5 separate regions of the Homo sapiens genome follow, and regions 2, 3, 4 and 5 are each reported to be linked to region 1. Evidence: microRNA targets listed by miRTarBase, many of them from high-throughput screens and not tested one by one. Region 1 holds a microRNA gene; each other region holds the end of a gene's coding sequence.

What was found. The annotated mature microRNA hsa-miR-6736-3p reads UCAGCUCCUCUCUACCCACAG and lies in region 1 at 1,840-1,860, shown strand. An mRNA with a match to its seed (bases 2 to 7 or 8) in the 3' UTR can be bound and repressed. Matches are read on the target gene's strand: a 7mer-m8 pairs with bases 2 to 8, a 7mer-A1 pairs with bases 2 to 7 and ends in A, and an 8mer does both.
Region 2: miRTarBase lists OAF as a target of hsa-miR-6736-3p. Seed matches in the 3' UTR shown: 7mer-m8 at 2,318-2,324 and 7mer-m8 at 2,259-2,265.
Region 3: miRTarBase lists MLXIP as a target of hsa-miR-6736-3p. Seed matches in the 3' UTR shown: 7mer-m8 at 1,317-1,323.
Region 4: miRTarBase lists A2ML1 as a target of hsa-miR-6736-3p. Seed matches in the 3' UTR shown: 7mer-m8 at 1,704-1,710 and 7mer-A1 at 1,149-1,155.
Region 5: miRTarBase lists NYAP2 as a target of hsa-miR-6736-3p. The part of its 3' UTR that is shown has no 7-base or 8-base seed match.

The regions. Positions count from the first base shown.
Region 1 is chr1:145,847,859-145,852,446 of GRCh38, reverse strand. It overlaps MIR6736 (microRNA 6736), which reads left to right and starts at 1,802; the gene lies at 1,802-1,860. It overlaps PIAS3 (protein inhibitor of activated STAT 3), which reads left to right. Exons shown (of 14, transcript NM_006099.3): 10 at 1,294-1,427; 11 at 1,508-1,676; 12 at 1,861-1,994; 13 at 2,178-2,215; 14 at 2,735-3,925. The coding sequence ends at 3,001. It overlaps NUDT17 (nudix hydrolase 17), which reads right to left. Exons shown (of 8, transcript NM_001012758.3): 7 at 4,183-4,335; 8 at 3,493-4,070. The coding sequence ends at 3,968. RefSeq lists an enhancer at 1,567-2,766.
Region 2 is chr11:120,228,892-120,231,891 of GRCh38, reverse strand. It overlaps OAF (out at first homolog), which reads right to left. Exons shown (of 4, transcript NM_178507.4): 4 at 1,558-3,000. The coding sequence ends at 2,750. Among named protein-coding and RNA genes, the nearest start is that of POU2F3, 9.7 kb to the left of the region's middle.
Region 3 is chr12:122,141,360-122,144,359 of GRCh38, reverse strand. It overlaps MLXIP (MLX interacting protein), which reads right to left. Exons shown (of 17, transcript NM_014938.6): 17 at 1-2,669. The coding sequence ends at 2,548. Among named protein-coding and RNA genes, the nearest start is that of IL31, 31 kb to the left of the region's middle. RefSeq lists a silencer at 1,671-1,871.
Region 4 is chr12:8,874,772-8,877,771 of GRCh38, reverse strand. It overlaps A2ML1 (alpha-2-macroglobulin like 1), which reads right to left. Exons shown (of 36, transcript NM_144670.6): 35 at 2,760-2,801; 36 at 985-1,714. The coding sequence ends at 2,761. Among named protein-coding and RNA genes, the nearest start is that of PHC1, 38 kb to the left of the region's middle.
Region 5 is chr2:225,698,104-225,701,103 of GRCh38, reverse strand. NYAP2 (neuronal tyrosine-phosphorylated phosphoinositide-3-kinase adaptor 2) reads right to left here. Exons shown (of 8, transcript NM_001371273.1): 8 at 1-2,787. The coding sequence ends at 2,560. The region is part of intron 5 of LOC105373914 (a long non-coding RNA gene); the gene reads left to right. Among named protein-coding and RNA genes, the nearest start is that of NYAP2, 300 kb to the right of the region's middle.

The sequences.
Region 1 (4,588 bases):
TGTACTGAACTGTCATAATATATCACCTATAACAACTACCTGACTTCCCACTGAGCATTGCAATAAGGTTCTTTTCAGGGCCTGGATGTTCTAATCTTTTGATCTTGCTAGTCTTAACCTCTTTTTGGAATCTACATTATGGTTCCTGTTCCCAGTGCTCCCCCACTTTTTGTTTGTTTGTTTGTTTTTGAGACAGGGTCTCGTTCTGTTGCCCAGACTGGAGTATAGTAGCACAATCATAGCTCACTGCAGCCTCGACCTCCTGGCCTCAAGTGATCCTCCCACCTTGGCCTCCCAAAGTGCTAGGATTGCAGGCATGAGCTACCATGCCTGGCCCCTAGTGCCTTTATTTATTTATTTTTACACAAGTGTTTAGAAAGCCAAAGACCCAGTGCCTTTTGGAGATGGTTTATGGACTTCTGTGTCTCTGCTCCTTTTGTTCCTTATACTACACGTAAGTGCTCAGATTTTTTTTTTTTTTTTTTTTGAGACGGTGTTTCACTCTGTCACCCAGGCTGGAGTGGTATGGCACAGTCTCGTGATCTCAGCTCATGCAACCTCTGCCTCCTGGGTTCAAGCAATTCTCCTGCCTCAGCCTCCTGAGTAGCTGGGATTACAGGCATGTGCCGCCACATCCGGCTAATTTTGTATTTTTGGTAGAGATGGGGTTTCACCATGTTGGCCAGGCTGGTCTCGAACTCCTGACCTCAGGTGATCCACCCACCTCAGTCTCTGAAAGTGTGATTATAGGCGTGAGCCACCACGCCGGCTTTTTTTTTTTTTTTTTTTTTGAGGCAGAGCCTTGCTCTGTTTCCCAGGGTGGAGAACAGTGGTGTGGTCTAGGCTCACTGCAACCTCTGCCTCCTGGGTTCAAGCGATTCTCGTGCCTCAGCCTCCTAAGTAGCTGGGATTATAGGCATGTGCCACCACACCTGGCTAATTTTTGTATTTTTAGTAGAGATGAGGTTTCACCATGTTGGCCAGGCTGGTCTTGAACTCCCAGCCTCAAGTGATTCACCTGCCTGTACCTCCCAAAGTGCTGGGATTAAAGGCGTGAGCCACTGCACCCAGCCTCAGATTGTATTTATTTTAAAACCTATTACTTACTTTGCAAAGCTCTTTTACATACCTTGTGTTATTTGATTCCAACAACTCAGAGCGGTCCAGTAGGATGGATAATGTTCTTATTTTACAGATGAGGAAACTGAGATACAGGAAGGTGAGTTACAGAACTCTGGCTACTGTTCTGCTCATCTCCCAGCCCCGTGAATTTTCATCTCTCTCTTCCCCCAGTTTATTTATGGAGATTCTTAGTTCCTGTTCAGATTGTGATGAGATCCAATTCATGGAAGATGGATCCTGGTGCCCAATGAAACCCAAGAAGGAGGCATCTGAGGTTTGCCCCCCGCCAGGGTATGGGCTGGATGGTGAGTGACCCCCTGTTCCCCAGCTAAGCTAAATCTTGGATGGCCTCTTCTCTGAGACGTAGTCTTCTTAATACCCACAGGCCTCCAGTACAGCCCAGTCCAGGGGGGAGATCCATCAGAGAATAAGAAGAAGGTCGAAGTTATTGACTTGACAATAGAAAGCTCATCAGATGAGGAGGATCTGCCCCCTACCAAGAAGCACTGTTCTGTCACCTCAGCTGCCATCCCGGCCCTACCTGGAAGCAAAGGGTATGAGAAAATAGGCTGAGTCTACAGCAAAACGGACAGGGGAAGAAGTCAGGATTGCTTTCTGATCATTGGACAAAGCCTGGGGCAAGAGAAATGTGGAGGGGACAGAGAGGGAACCTGGGGACCTGAGCTGGGTGAGGGCATCTGTGGTTTGCTGGCTGCCTCAGCTCCTCTCTACCCACAGAGTCCTGACATCTGGCCACCAGCCATCCTCGGTGCTAAGGAGCCCTGCTATGGGCACGTTGGGTGGGGATTTCCTGTCCAGTCTCCCACTACATGAGTACCCACCTGCCTTCCCACTGGGAGCCGACATCCAAGGTATGACATGGGTCATAAGATGGACCCTGCACTGCCACACCCTCCCCAGAGCTACATCAGAACCCCTGTTCCTTCTCAAAGCCTCCTGCTTCTCCTGCAAGGGGCCACAGTCCACAGTGCTTTGTCTTTTGGTGGTAAAGGGGTCAGATAGGAGGTTAATTTTGATTTTTCTTTTCCTGCCAGGTTTAGATTTATTTTCATTTCTTCAGACAGAGAGTCAGGTAAGTGGTTCTTTCTTCAGAAGGTCTCAGATCTCTGAAGCTTCCTTTCTAGACACTGATGGGGCCCCTCCCTCTCTTATGATCTCTGGGGATGTAAATCTGCTTTCCCGTGAGGGCAGTGGGGTGTAGGTATCTTATTATCTCCTCAGCCCCACTGGTAGTTCCTGAGATTCCTACTTAGGCCTCCTTCCTAGATCCCCTGTTACTTTTCTGCCCTGGCCTACTCACCCCTACCCCCGTGTGCACTTAGAGCACCATGCCTGCTCTAACCGGACATTCCACACATTTCAGACGCCCACAAAGCCAAGAACCTAACAAGTTGGAGGAGCTCTCTCAAGGCAGGGAAAGGGGAAGGGTGTAGGGAAGTAGGGGAAAGAGGGAGAGGCTCTCCTGCTTCTCAAGAGAATACCTTCGGATCCACAGGGGTTGATTGCTCTCATACGGCATTTCTGAGATGAGTGACTGGGAGGTGGGGAAGTCGGGATTGAGATCTTAAACTATGCCCTTGATTCTTCCTAGCACTATGGCCCCTCTGTCATCACCTCACTAGATGAACAGGATGCCCTTGGCCACTTCTTCCAGTACCGAGGGACCCCTTCTCACTTTCTGGGCCCACTGGCCCCCACGCTGGGGAGCTCCCACTGCAGCGCCACTCCGGCGCCCCCTCCTGGCCGTGTCAGCAGCATTGTGGCCCCTGGGGGGGCCTTGAGGGAGGGGCATGGAGGACCCCTGCCCTCAGGTCCCTCTTTGACTGGCTGTCGGTCAGACATCATTTCCCTGGACTGAGTTCCCTGGATTATGGAAACTTCGCTGTCCCCCAACACTGAGCAAGTATGCTGTGGAGTCCCAACCCCAGCTACTCTGATCCCTCTGGGGGCTCTGGCCAAGGGCCAGACAGACCTTCACAGATGCCTACTTTTGGCCTCATCTCTGCCTGACAAGGCCAGCACCCAAAGGGTTAATATTTAACCTCTTTTTAAGGACACTGGGGTCTGTTTCTGGAAATGTTCTTTAGATGGTGGCACATTCCTTTGGGTATGTTAACCTAGGCAGTGGGAGGCAAATGGGATGGTATGTGAGCTAGGAGAAGGGCTGAACCCTCAGCCTTGACTATGTCTAGAGCCTCTTGGGGAAGGGGCACCTCTCTTGAACCCCAAATGCTCTCTCTTCTTATTACCCAAACCCATGGCTCTATTTCTTCTTCACATCCATTGTCTCTTCATGTCTATTCCATTCCCTTCGGCCAAACAGACAGGTGGAAAAACTGAGACAGGCAGTTTCAGAGATGGACAGAGAACTTTATTTTGGATTGTGGATGTGGACTTTTTTGTACATAAATAAGAAAAACCAAAATACTCCAAAGATGACTTCCCCTGCCTCCTACTCCAGTATGACAGAGGAGGATGTAAGGCCTTAGCCATGATCTGCAGGGGTCTGGGAGTCAGGCCCGGCCTATTGCTTGGGTCTCTCTCTATTTATATATCTAAGTTCACAGTGTTTCTTATTCCCCCCTAAGCTTCTAGAGGCTCATGGCCCTGTAGTTAGGCCTGGCTCATTCTGCACCTTTCCAGGGAGGTGGAAGGACCCTGTGCCCTCCTTCCCAATCTTCTTTTTCAGGCTCGCCAAGGCCTAGGACCTATGTTGTAATTTTACTTTTTATTTCTAAAGTTGTAGTGAAGCTCTCACCCATAATAAAGGTTGTGAATGTTCTGTGAGTGTCATGGAGATGGGCTAGGGAGGGGATTTTACACTTCACTTTCCAGACCCCTGGTTTGGGGGAAGAGGGTCCATGTTCCATTCTTCCTTTGCTGGCCCTGGGTCCAGGTAAGCTGCACTTTTACACGGTGGGGGTGTTCTGTGGAGGAATTCCAAGAGAGGTTGTCCTTTCCTGCTTTCCCCCGTGCCTGTAAAAACTAGACCATTCCAGCCCAGTACTGTGGAGCTCTCCAGTCCTTTTTCACTTTTACCTGCCCAGATGTTGCAGCCAGAGCTTGAGGGCAAACTTGGTTCCAGTGCTGACTCTCTCTTTGTCCTCTGCCATGGTTGGGATCATCCGCAGGAGGGTGGACATGTGCAGGACCAGAGGTCGGGCTCTTCCATCCTCCTCTAGTTCCACTGCACTGCATGGTGACAACTCCTGTTGGGGCTGTGCCTTGTAGCTTACAAAGAACTTACATATATGTTAGGTCCCCGAATCCTCCCAACTACCACAGGAGGTGGGTGGGTGTTGACCTCATTTGCAGAAAGGAAACAGGTTCAAGGAGGGTTAAATGACTTGCCCCTGTGTTAGAACTGACACTTAGACCTTCAATGCTAGCCAGTTAGAGCAAGAATCTTTGGGGTTTGATGGTCAGTGTCTTAGATTTCATGTAC
Region 2 (3,000 bases), not on the chromosome of region 1:
CTGGCTGGCCAACCTCATAAAGCACTTTGGGTTGGGAGGGGGTGTGGAGTAAGAAGGACAGGGGTTGGATCTCAGTTCTGTTCTAACAAGATGCCTGGACTTGAACTTGGGCTGGTCACACAATTTTATAAGGGAGCCACATCTATAAAATGTTACAGAGTCACTACAAGGAGCCAATGGCCAATTTATATGAAGGCACATTGTAAACCCTAAAGTCCGCAGAGAAATAAGTACTGATATTACCACTCCCAAGTGTTTTACACGGCCACAAAAGCCTCCTGCGATAGGGAAGTCTTATCTCAGTGTTTGCCAAACAGCTGACCACCTACATCTATTTCAACAAGCTCCTAAGTGATTCTGATGCACACTAAAATTTGCTTTTCAGCAAAGAAGTGACTGTCACGGCAGGATTTCAGGTGCTGTGACAGTGGGGCTAAGGCGGTTGGGCGAGTGCTTTGGAATGGTGGACTCGAGCCCTTGGATGTGGCCCTGTGGGAGGTGCCTACTTTGCAGAGTGTTAAGGTCAGCCCAAAGTCTCAGGGATTCTTCTCATCACCATCCCCTGAGACTAAGGAGCCCAAGGCAGCTGGTGTCTGTAGTGATGGTGTCCAGAGCCCCCTCACTGCAGGGGCCAGACAAGCTAGGAGGTGCTAGTCAAGGAAGGTCAGAAAAACACTCCAAGTCTTGAAAACATTGCTTTTTAAAAAAGCATTATTTTTGGTGACTTGGAAATCAGAAGGGAAAACATACTGATTTGGGGACTCCCCTTCCATCAAAAAAGGCACACAGGAGGTAGCAGGTGCCTTCTCCAAGTATCCCTTGCCCACCTGGAGCAATGGCTGGGGCTTGGGATGGAGGCCCTGGCAGAAAGGGAAGGAGAAAAAGGACTGGGGGGTGACTGATGGGACAGCTCCCTCCCCATCCCCCAGCAAGGCTGAGCTGGTCCTTGAAAACAGGTTCAGAAGGGAGGTGTGCCCACCTGAAAAGGTTATCTCCCCGCTGACCCTCAGCTCAACCAAGGCCAAGCAAGCCCAGCTCCCTCAACCCTCTGGCCTGCATGAGTTCAAGGGGCAGTTGCAGCCTGTTCTGGGAGTTCTGGGAGCAGAGTAAAGGGGACCACCCTGCAAACCCCTTCCCTCGCCAAGGCCTTCAAGGAAGGATCTGACTGTCCCCATCTCTTCCTTGAGAAAGTTGGGTCACCTGGGGAACCCATGAGACTCTTCCAACCCCTAAAACACTCCTGCCTCCACCTTGCCAAATCGTTACCATCTTCCAGCCTCAACCCACACCCCAACTCTTCCAGAAAGCCTTTCCCAATACATGCAGCCTGCACATCCCTCGCTCTGGAACCATCCAGAACCCTGCCCGGCACTTCCTATTACAGCCTCTTCATGTTGAAAGATACTTTGGAAGTGAAGAGCCTTCCAGATGTCTGATTTCATTGAGTCAGGCTTATAGCTGCAGGAATGTCTGCTTTTTTCACTAATAGTAATGATACTAAGAATGGCTAACAGCACTATGTGCTAGATGCTTGACATGCAAGAATTCACTTCGGTCTCTTAAGTAAGCTCATTTTATAGCTAAGGGAGTGGAGGCACAGAGAGGTCAAGCAACTTGACCCATGGCTGCACAGCAGGTAAGTAGCCGAGCCCAGATCTGAAGCGGGGTTCCAATCTCCACCCCATCTCTTGCCTTCGCGCTGGCTATTTCTGACTGGCTTACTACGGTTGCAGCTATGTCTGTCTCATTGTCTTGGGTGCAGAAGTTTTATCTCATCCTTCCCTAGTAACATCTTCCTTCTCCTCCTTCCTTCCTCAAATGGCTGAGCACACAGTAGGTGCTTTCGAAGTTCTTGTTCCAAGATAGGCCACTGCTAGGGTGTGGGGACACTTTCTGACATCAGGTGGCAGCATTGGCCAAAAGTTTTCTCCAAACTCTGGGTCTCATTAGTCAAGTAAAAACTTAAAACGTTTATTTCTGGTAGAAATGATAAATACTTTGCACTAAAAATCTGGAATTCAAGTTTTCCTCGTACTTCATGCTCCCTCCCTGCCCCAGAACCTTACAAAAATATTTCTGTGTAGAGAGGGAAAGAGCTGGTGCCTGCTCTGGAGGCAACGTCCAGGTCCGGGAAAGGCACTCGTGGTCTGTGATCTGTCTCAGTGATGGGAGGTCTCCACTCGCCCCACAGGCAGCCTCGGGGCCAGAGATGAGAATATGCTGTAATCCAGTACAGGGGCTGCGTCGTGGGTCCCCAACAGCTCCTTCTTTGGGGATAGTGAGCCCCTTGTTGGGGAGTAGGAAGGGACTGAGGGGCCAGCTCCTTCCAGATGTGTGCATGGGGAAGGGAGTTGTGTCTGGGGAGGTGGGTGTCCAGGTATAGACTCCTTTTAGGGTCTAAACGTTCAAGGAGTTCAACAGAACAACCAGAGGCCATCATGTTTTGGCAGCTTGCAAGTGAACACTCCAGGGGAGATGCAGGAGGGAGGGGTGTAGATCTGGGGAGCCCTTCTCTCCCTCTCTGCCCGCAAGGAAGGCACAGGGTGGGAATGGGGGTGCCTTCATGAGACCCCCTGCCATGCCACACCCCCTTCACAGTCATGTGAGATGGGGCCAGAGGGGCCCAGGCTCTAGGGCCAGGGGAGTGGGGAGGGAGGGAAATAAGGCCTCAGGTGGGGGTTGCCACCCCCTCTAGTGGCTGGTGAAGAGCAGTGGGCCCAGAGCAGCCACCCGCCAGGTTGCTCCCACCCTAGCCTGGGTAGGGATCCTCATCCCAGAGACACAGCTGCCTCTGGGGCACGTAGAAGTCGAAGCTGTAGCTCTTCTGGCAGCTGCGGATGCCACACTTGTAGGGCGTGGGCCGGTCGCGGCTGTGGCAGTACTTGAGCATGCAGGGGTACCAGGCCAGGCTCAGGCCATAGCGGCAGACGCAGGGCTTCCCGTGGTCCCCCACCTGCCTGCAGCGAGGCAGCTCCGCCTGCTCTGAGGCCTTGGGCAGAG
Region 3 (3,000 bases), not on the chromosome of region 1:
TCCTTCAGCTTCAGCCTCCCAAAGTGCTAGGATCACAGGCAGGAGCCACCGTGCCCAGCCAAGATTGATTTTCTTACTCTCCAAAGCGTCAGCATTTTGAAGTTTCTTTTATGAAAGTGGGGGCAAGAATCAGGGTGAAAATGAGTGTAAACAAAGCCCATCCTGTGGTCAGCACCCACTGGAGGTGGCCAGCAGAGTGGCCTCAGATGTTCCTGCACCTGGCCCAGGAGCCCAGGACAGAGGTCAAATCTAGGCCCCTTGGTCTGGCTGGATTCATCAGGCAAGATTCGAAAACAAGAAAACCTCTAGAACAAGAAACAATCATGTCTGCAGCAGATACGGCACTGTGGCCCTATGGCCATGGCAATCGTGAGCACCAAGAGAATGAGTTACAGAAATATCTCCAATACAAAGACATGCATCTCCTGGACAGTGGACAGTCGCTGGGACACACACACACACTTCAAGGCTCACACAACCTAACAGCCTTAAATATCTGAAGAAACAGAATCACGACATTAAGTCAGCAGAGGGAGAGGTAGGCTGAAGCAGCAGGAGGCCAATTTTATATCCCACAGATTTTTTTAAAAATGACTCCCCAGCAAGGGGTGGGGAGAAAGCCACTGATTTAGGAGAGTTCTTGGCTCAGCCAACCACTGCGGTTATCTACACGTTTTACAAAGGCACAGAAGTAGAGAGGGGCTGCACTCACGACCCTCCCCAGGGCCCGCACAGCCAGACACGGTGGGTTCTTCCTTTTTCCCTTCTGGCCTTGGTGGAATTCCTACCACGGTGGCCTCTGCCTTTGGGACAATGCCTTCATGCTCATCCCCGGGTCAAGGATGGAGTCTGTTACCATTTTCCAGGGGAAATTCCAAGGACCAGCCCCGCCTCATTACGTTCACCCCACAGGAAGGTGATCTGGAAAGCCTGTAAACACGTACTCTGGGTGGCTGAGTGGTGTCACCAAGCTGCTTTTGTGCAGGGCTGAAGCACAGACAAGAGGGCAGGCAGCTGGCCGGAGGCCTGAAGTGGGGAGAGATCCCCGCAGGCCTGCAGGAGCCAGGGAGAACCTCCAACTGGATCTAAACTGTGGGACAGCCCAGGCGTGCCCCTCTTCACATGGCTCCCAGGCTCCCTCAAAGCCCTTCCCAGGCCCTGCAGGAAGAGAGGGAGGGTGAGGAGAGGCAGGGAGGGCAGAGGTCGCCTGAAAGCCTGGGCTCCGAACTCCTCAGCAGAGCTTTAAAGTGCATTCTTTCCACGAGGAGGTACCCTCGGCCGGGCTTCCTGAGTGCTGGAGAGAGTGCTTGCCCCTGCAGCTCCCTGCAGAGGTAGCCAGAGAAGAGCAAGGACTGAGGCTGGGCCAAACTCTCACTGCAGGCTCAGAATGGCCCCCAGCCCAGCCACACCTCCACCCAGCCCAGATCTGGGTAGATTCTTTGCTGTCTGATCTGAGAGATGCCTAGAAACAGCTCTGAGGGCTGACCACCACAGAGTGCTGCCTGCCAACATTGTTTCCTTCTCCAAACACAAGACGGGACAGACTTTTGAGTGTGGGGGCATCTTTGGTCCGAGAACTGTCCTGGTTTGGGGCTCCCAGCTGAAAGACATCAGACAAGATGACAAGGCTGACAGCAGGACGTGGAGTCTGATCTTTCAGACACTAGAACTTCAGGGTTCTAAGCTCCCACAGGACATGCTTGATCTGTCAACAGCTGCAGCTGGAGCCAAGTGGAGAAGAACGGCAGAAGGGCCACAGCGGTGAGGTGACATCCGAGAAGGCCCTGGGCTGAGTCCCCATGGATCCTGCAATGTCAGGTGGAGCTAAAAGGGGACAGATGAAACATGCCCAGCAGGGCCTCTCAGCCAGAGCAGCCACCGTGCATCACACGCTTCCATTCTGGTCCTGTGTGTTCCACATCCACCGTTTCTGCACACATGTGTCCTGGAGGACCTCTGAAGAAGGCACTTCCCCCTGGCAGCCTGCCATGCATAAGCCTGAATAGAAGCCCAAGTCCATCCACAAGGGCTGGGTGCTGTCAGAGTTGAGGGGAGAAAGAAAGACGCCTTCCAACTGCCCCACGGGCAGACCAGAGAGTGGAGCAGGGCATCAGGCAGAGGCATGCATGTGGACAGGACGTGGCAGGAGGGACAAGGCTGGGCCTCAGGACAGGAGCAGGCCCTGTCACCCTCATCCCATCGATTCCGCTCACCGGCGCCAGGCCCGGCAGGCCACCAGCAGGGCAGGACCAGCACGGCCAGCACTTCCCTTTTGTGTGGGCTGCCCCGAGGGCAGAGGAGGTTGGTGACTGAGGTCACTGAGTGAGAGAGTTCACAGCAAGGGGTTCCCAAAGGCGGGCTATTGCTGTCAGCAGGCCCCAAACCTGCTTCAGACCTGAGCATGGCCTCCCGATGCCACGGTGGGCCGGCAGAGTTGGAGAGAGGCCCCGAGGCTGAGCGTCAGGAAGGGCTGGGGGGCGCAGCCTACTCTCCATGGGCAGGGAAGGGTCTCCTGGCATCTCATGCGGCCACATGCCAGCTAAGCAGCTAGGACTCTCCCAATCTCTTGCCAATCCTGGTGACAGCCTTGGACGCCTGCTCTGGCAGCTGTGCCGGGTCTGTGAGGATGGAGGTGGAGGTGCTCAGCTGCCGCAGCGTGCTCAATACCACTGCAAGACAGAAAGGGTCAGACACAGGCAGTGACACAGACCCACCACACACCGCACACTCGGCTTTGTACCTACAACCCATGTGGGAATGCTCAGGCACGGGGCGAGCAGCAGCCATGCTGGACTGCAGGGAGGAGTGCCAGGGGCCGACACCGAGACCTGGGCACTCACCCCTCTGCCTCCAGAAGCCTCCCCAAATCCAGGAGCTGCCGTAGGTGGAGCATCCTATGCTGTTCCTGGTGCCATGGGGCTGCCAGCTGTTCTGATATTAAGCTTCTATAACCTTAACATATGGGATAATCTTTGCTTGTTGTTATAAGAATTAAACAAG
Region 4 (3,000 bases), not on the chromosome of region 1:
ACTGCTTTCCACAGTGGCTGAACTAATTTACCTTCCCACCAACAGTGTGTTAGCATTCCCTTTTCTCTGCTACCTCGCCAACATCTCTTATTTTCTGACTTTAATAATAGCCATTCTAACTAGTGTGGATGGTATCTCATTGTGGTTTTGATTTTGCATTTCTCTGATGATTAGTGATGGTTAGCATTTTTTCATATGTTTATTGGCCACTTGTACTCTTCTTTTGAGAAGTGTCTGCTCATGCCCCTTGCCCACGTTTTAATGGGATTATTTGTTTTTTTCTTGTTGATTTGTTTAAGTTCCTTATAGATTCTGGATATTAGTTCTTTGCTGGAGGCAGTTTGTTAATATTTTCTCCTATTCTTTAGGCTGTCTGTTTACTCTGTTGATAGTTTCTTTTGCTGTGCAGAAGCTCTTTAGTTTAAGTAGGTCCCATCTGTCATTTTTTATTTTTGTAGAATGTACTTATTTTCCCTGACTTTTCAGTCAGAATTTGCAATCAAGGGGAGCATAATGGATCCAGTGGATACCCAGGATAAAAGGGTGTAATTGCCTAGAGAATCTTTTCTGTTAAATATCATTCATCTTACTTCCCTTATCCCTTTGCCTCCAAACCTGTTTCCAAAACAAAAGCATTCCTCTGAGGAAGTGCTTGCACGGTGATAGGTGATAGATAGCCCATGTGGGGAGAGGTTGGGAGAATCATGCAGAAGAGAAACCGAGAGAGATGGAAACGGCATTCTGGCCAGCCACTTTTCTTGTAATCCATCACTGTTTGCCCTGCAGTAGCGGGCTGGTTGAGCAGAGCCCCATAATTAAAATTCTCTATTCTAACCTGTCCTCACATCTTTAAGATGATTCTTTGAGAAGTCTGGGTTAAAAGGTTTAAGGAAGAAACCAAACTGTGAGTTTTGGGGGAAAGGATGATCATCACCTTTAAAAGAACTTTTGGTTTCCAAAGAAATATGCATAGAACTAAATGCACAGATTTTCTTTTCCATTTTTATTTTTTTAGCCAATTTCCAAAGCCCTAAATCACATTTTCCCTTAGACTGAAACTCTAGAAAAACATTATTATTATTATTATTTATTATTTTTTGAGACAGGGTCTTGCCTCATTGCCCAGGCTGGAGTGCAGTGGCACAATCTCAGCTCACTGCAACCTCCACCTCCAGTGTTGAGGCGATTCTCCTGCCTTGGCCTTCCAAGGGGCTGCGATTACAGGCCCGTGCCACCACACCAGGCTAATCTTTGTATTGTTAGTAGAGACGGGTTTTACCATGTTGGCCAGGCTGGTCTTGAACTCCTGACCTCAAGTGATCCGCCCACCTCGCAATCCCAAAGTGCTGGGATTACAGGCGTGAGCCACCGCATCCGGCCTAGGAAGACATTCTTATCTTCTCTAGTTCACCCTCTACCACCGTCTCCTCTCTGGAGAGCCCCCTGAATGGCTAAATAAAACAGCTAAACCACCTTTCTTCCCCCTATGACCCTGCCCATGCAACGCCTCCTCTGAGTGATTGTTCCTATCCCATCTCCTTGCAAAGGTAGTAGAAAGTATTATAGCTGAGGTTCAGACATATTCATTTGTTACCCATATACTAGTCAGAGAAATTAAATTATTTGATTGAATGAGTTCTGCTTCAAGCGACAGAAGAATGTTCCACCCTCCAGTAAATGTCACAGAGGACTAATTGAGTTTCCAGCTCCTATCCTGAAAAGCGAACAATCAAACAAAAAATAGAAGACACTGTGATACTCAGAAGCTCATTACATACATAGAGGATACTTGACCTCTCTATATATATACAAAAAAATCTCACAAATGCACAGTTGGATTATTAATAGTGTTATCTCACAGGTGTAGAATCAGGTAACCTTTACTTTTGTCTTAGTATTTTCATATAACAAAGATGTATCATGTAAAAATATCAGGAAAAATCAATCCATTTTCAATCTGATAGAAAAAAGTATTGTTTTAATACCAAGCATTAGCTTTTTCTTCTGTAAACTATTTTCAAGAGTTTAGGACAGGCCGGGCACAGTGGCTTACACCTGTAATCCCAGCACTTTGGGAGGCTGAAGTAGGCGGATCACCTGAGGCCAGGAGTTTGAGACCAGCCTGACCAACATGGCGAAACCCCATCTCTATTAAAAATACAAAAAAAATTAGCTGGGCGTGATGGCACGTGCCTGTCATCCCAGCTACTCAGGAGGCTGAGGCACAAGAATCGCTTGAACTTGGGAGGCAGAGGCTGCAGTGAGCTGAGATCACGCCACTGCACTGCAGCCTGGGCAACAGAGCCAGATCCTGTTTAAAAAAAAAAAAAAAGTTTAAGACAAAAAAGGAAAGCTCACTTTCTATCAACAATAGCTTCCAAAAGACAATAACAGGGCTGAGTGTGGTGGCTCATGCTTGTAATCTCAGCACTTTGGGAGGCCGAGGTGGGCAGATCACCTGAAGTCAGGAGTTCGAGACCAGCCTGGTCAACATGGTGAAACTCTGTCTCTACTAAAAATACAAAAATTAGCCAGGCATCATGGTGGGCGCCTATAATCCCAGCAACTCAGGAGGCTGAGGCAGGAGAATCGCTTGAAGCTGGGAAGTGAGCCACTCAACCTCCGCCACTGCCCTCCAGCCTGGGCAACACCGCGAGACTCTATCTCAAAAAAAGACAATGACAGTAACTCGAAAAGAGGCTCCTCTTAACTTCTGCCACCCTAACCCATAACTCCACCCATTTCTCCGCTGGACTTACCTCATTCACAGGGATCAGAATACTGAATTGTTGCCTGTTCATCTGTGAAATGAAATAAGTCATATTATTACTTTGAGGGCCTCCTATATTCAGAGGGAAAATGCTTCAGAAAAGCTACTGCTTGAGCCCCTTCCAGAGAATCTCTACAGGTTATGAGCATATTCAGAATTACAAGAAAGTTTCAATCACTAATATTTGTACATTGTGACAAACTATTAATCATACCAAAAATAATAGAAAT
Region 5 (3,000 bases), not on the chromosome of region 1:
AACAGTTCTTGAGTCAAATCTCAGTGAAGCCACTTTTCCAGATCTTTCAGTCACTTTCCACTTAAGTAGAGATTTGCGGAAATAAATGAAAATGGTTGCCTAAGGTCAAATTTTCAAACAAGTTACCGCCTCAGAAAATAATGCATTTGAAAAAGGAGTGCATGAAACCTGGCCCTAGCATAAGTTTGATAGAACAAACAGGAATGGTTTAATCCAACACAGATCATTTTAGTACTTTTGTTTCCTTCTTGACAAATGGCCAACATTAAATAAACTTTCTGCCTAAATCAGAGTGATATGGGAAAGATACGCATCTGAAAAACACACTTGCATCTCCCCACAGAAAGATGTTCCCTAAATATAAATTTTAAGGGAGGGTTAATCATCACCATACTGAGCCTGAATATATACGTAATCATAGACATGCTGAGAATTAGTATCTTGTGTCTGACTGATAGGCTTGAGTATATGTGGTCATAATAACTTAAATCAGGATAACAACTTGGGTCATAAACACATTTTATTTCCATTCTGATTTTATCTAAACACATTTTCATCACCCTTAGATTTGTGCTTCATAGATTATTTGGTTTGAAACATAATCTATAGCTGGTGAAACATGCTGGCGGGTTTTATTTAAGCTACTTAAGATCCCTTCCTAATTTCCTGCATTTGTGATCCCGGTTTTCTACCACCTCAATTATACAAGCAGAACCTGCAACTTCAGTAAGCGTTTTATGTATACAGTTCTCCCACTGAGTATTCGTTCATGTACACACACACTCACACACACACACATGCACGCACGCTCACAGACACACCAACCATACACTGCTCCCACTTACCTTTTTCCTTATTTTTTCAGAATTTGAATTGGACATCAAAATACACATTAATTATAAAACATTAGAAAATCATGTTATAACATTGAAAAGGCTTTTGAAAGAAACTATTACTGATAAAGCATTACTAGGTTTGTAGCAATATAGATTACAAAGATTCTCTAACTCCTGTTATATTTGGTTTTATTGAGCAGCACTGAACTATTGCTGTCAATACCCTTACAAGAAAAACTGCTATAACAATAACTTCAAAAACACATCTTTTCTCTCAGAAATATAATACTAAATTGATTGTTAACAAAGAACCACATACTATCAATTTTAGGAGGCATAAATAGTAATTTAAATATACAAAATATATGCGATAGTTTCTTTTTTATTCATTCGTGGCAATATTTATATTCAACTAACAAGTTCTTCTTAAAAGATATATATGATTTTTTTAACTTAAATTTCACCACTACATAAAATTGAATCCACCCCATCCCTCATCCCCTGCATTTCCTGTCTCTTTCTTGAAACAAAATGAAATGAAACATGATCATAATTCTTTGGTCATGGTGTCATAATCAGTAAGAATGGGTGTGATGATCACATACAGAAGATTATGACCCAGAAATGTGGTGATAACCAGTTTGAAAAAATTAACAAGAAATACATATTTTATTAATAGATCTAAACTTTTAGAAAGATTGGCATTTAGTGTATTAAAATATGTAAACTGGTCTAGTTGAATGTTTATTTCTCATTTTCTTGGGGAAACAAGCATACACATGAAAAGTTACTTAAATATAGTGATTATGGTGGCTACAATGCCACTGGTCCCACTTTCTTGAAAGCAGTCATGCTCTTGAGCTATTAATTCCTTGTTCCTTCCATTGTCACAGTGAACCCTGGTCTCCTCCAATCAGATCAATGATGCAAGGACACATGTCCCTAAAGTCATTTCTGAAGGAAATGTTTTCTGCTGGGATGTCCAATATATCCTAGTAACTTTCTCTGGAGTCTGACTAACCATTGCTTAGTTATTACTAAGTCAGACTAATGGTTAGCCTAACCATTGCCAGAGGATGCTAAAGAGAAATTCTTATAAAGCCAATGTAGCAAAAATATTGTTGTCAATGTAACTTGGACGTCCAAATTAAGCATCACATTTGCATTCATTTCCTGTCAAACCCTTGAAACTTAAAAAGCACAGATGCTCTTAACAAATATGATATTCAACTTCTACGTTACTAGCACCAGATCATATATTACGTGATTGAACATGATTTATAGTTGTGAGCTCTTGTACAGAAACCAAATGTGGGCAAGGGAAAAAAAACATTTTAAATGCAAAAATTAATAATAAAAGGCATCAAGGGATTACATATAAAAGAGATAACAAACCAGTTAATACTGAAATTATATCATATAGTAAACTCTTGATATTTCTGTAATTTATATACGTATAATGTGTATTATTTCAGATGTCACCCATAAACTAGTAAAATATTTACATTTTAATATCTTCTGGATTCAAAATAATCCGGGATAAATAAGTGTGCCTTCATTGCAAGGACATATGCATTTTATCTTGAACTTGCCACGAATAGGCACAGCTTCCCGTGGCATTCCACTCCCACAGAAAAGATATGTAACAGTTCATTATCATATGACCGAGTCGACCTCCCTCTTCATATTAAGAAATGTAGAGCTCACACCATCCTGCACACACTCATATGGCAGTATCCCAGAATACCGTTTGCTGTTTAGAATACGGTGGAGGGCTGTACTTCTTGGCACCTGCATTCTTCTTCCAGCTGGGCAAGATAGGCATGCTATCCTGTTTGCAAAGGCCCTTTTCCGTTTTCTGTCTAGCCTTTATTTCCTTGCACAAGCAACGCTTTTTCTCAATCATCTCAAGCATTGTATGGTCTCCATGAAACCACTGCATGCATGCCACCTAGCAAAAAAGAAAGAGTGAATACAGAAGAAAAAAATGGAATGAAAGCATATTTCTTTTGCACTGTGCTAGTAGTTTCTTAGAACAATGTCAGCTGTTTCTATATCTCTTCTAAAATTCTTTTTAGTTTTGTCTTGTTTTAGACAAGGTCTCACCCTCACCCAGGCTAAGAATACGATGATGCAATCACAGCTCACAGCAGCCTCAACCTCC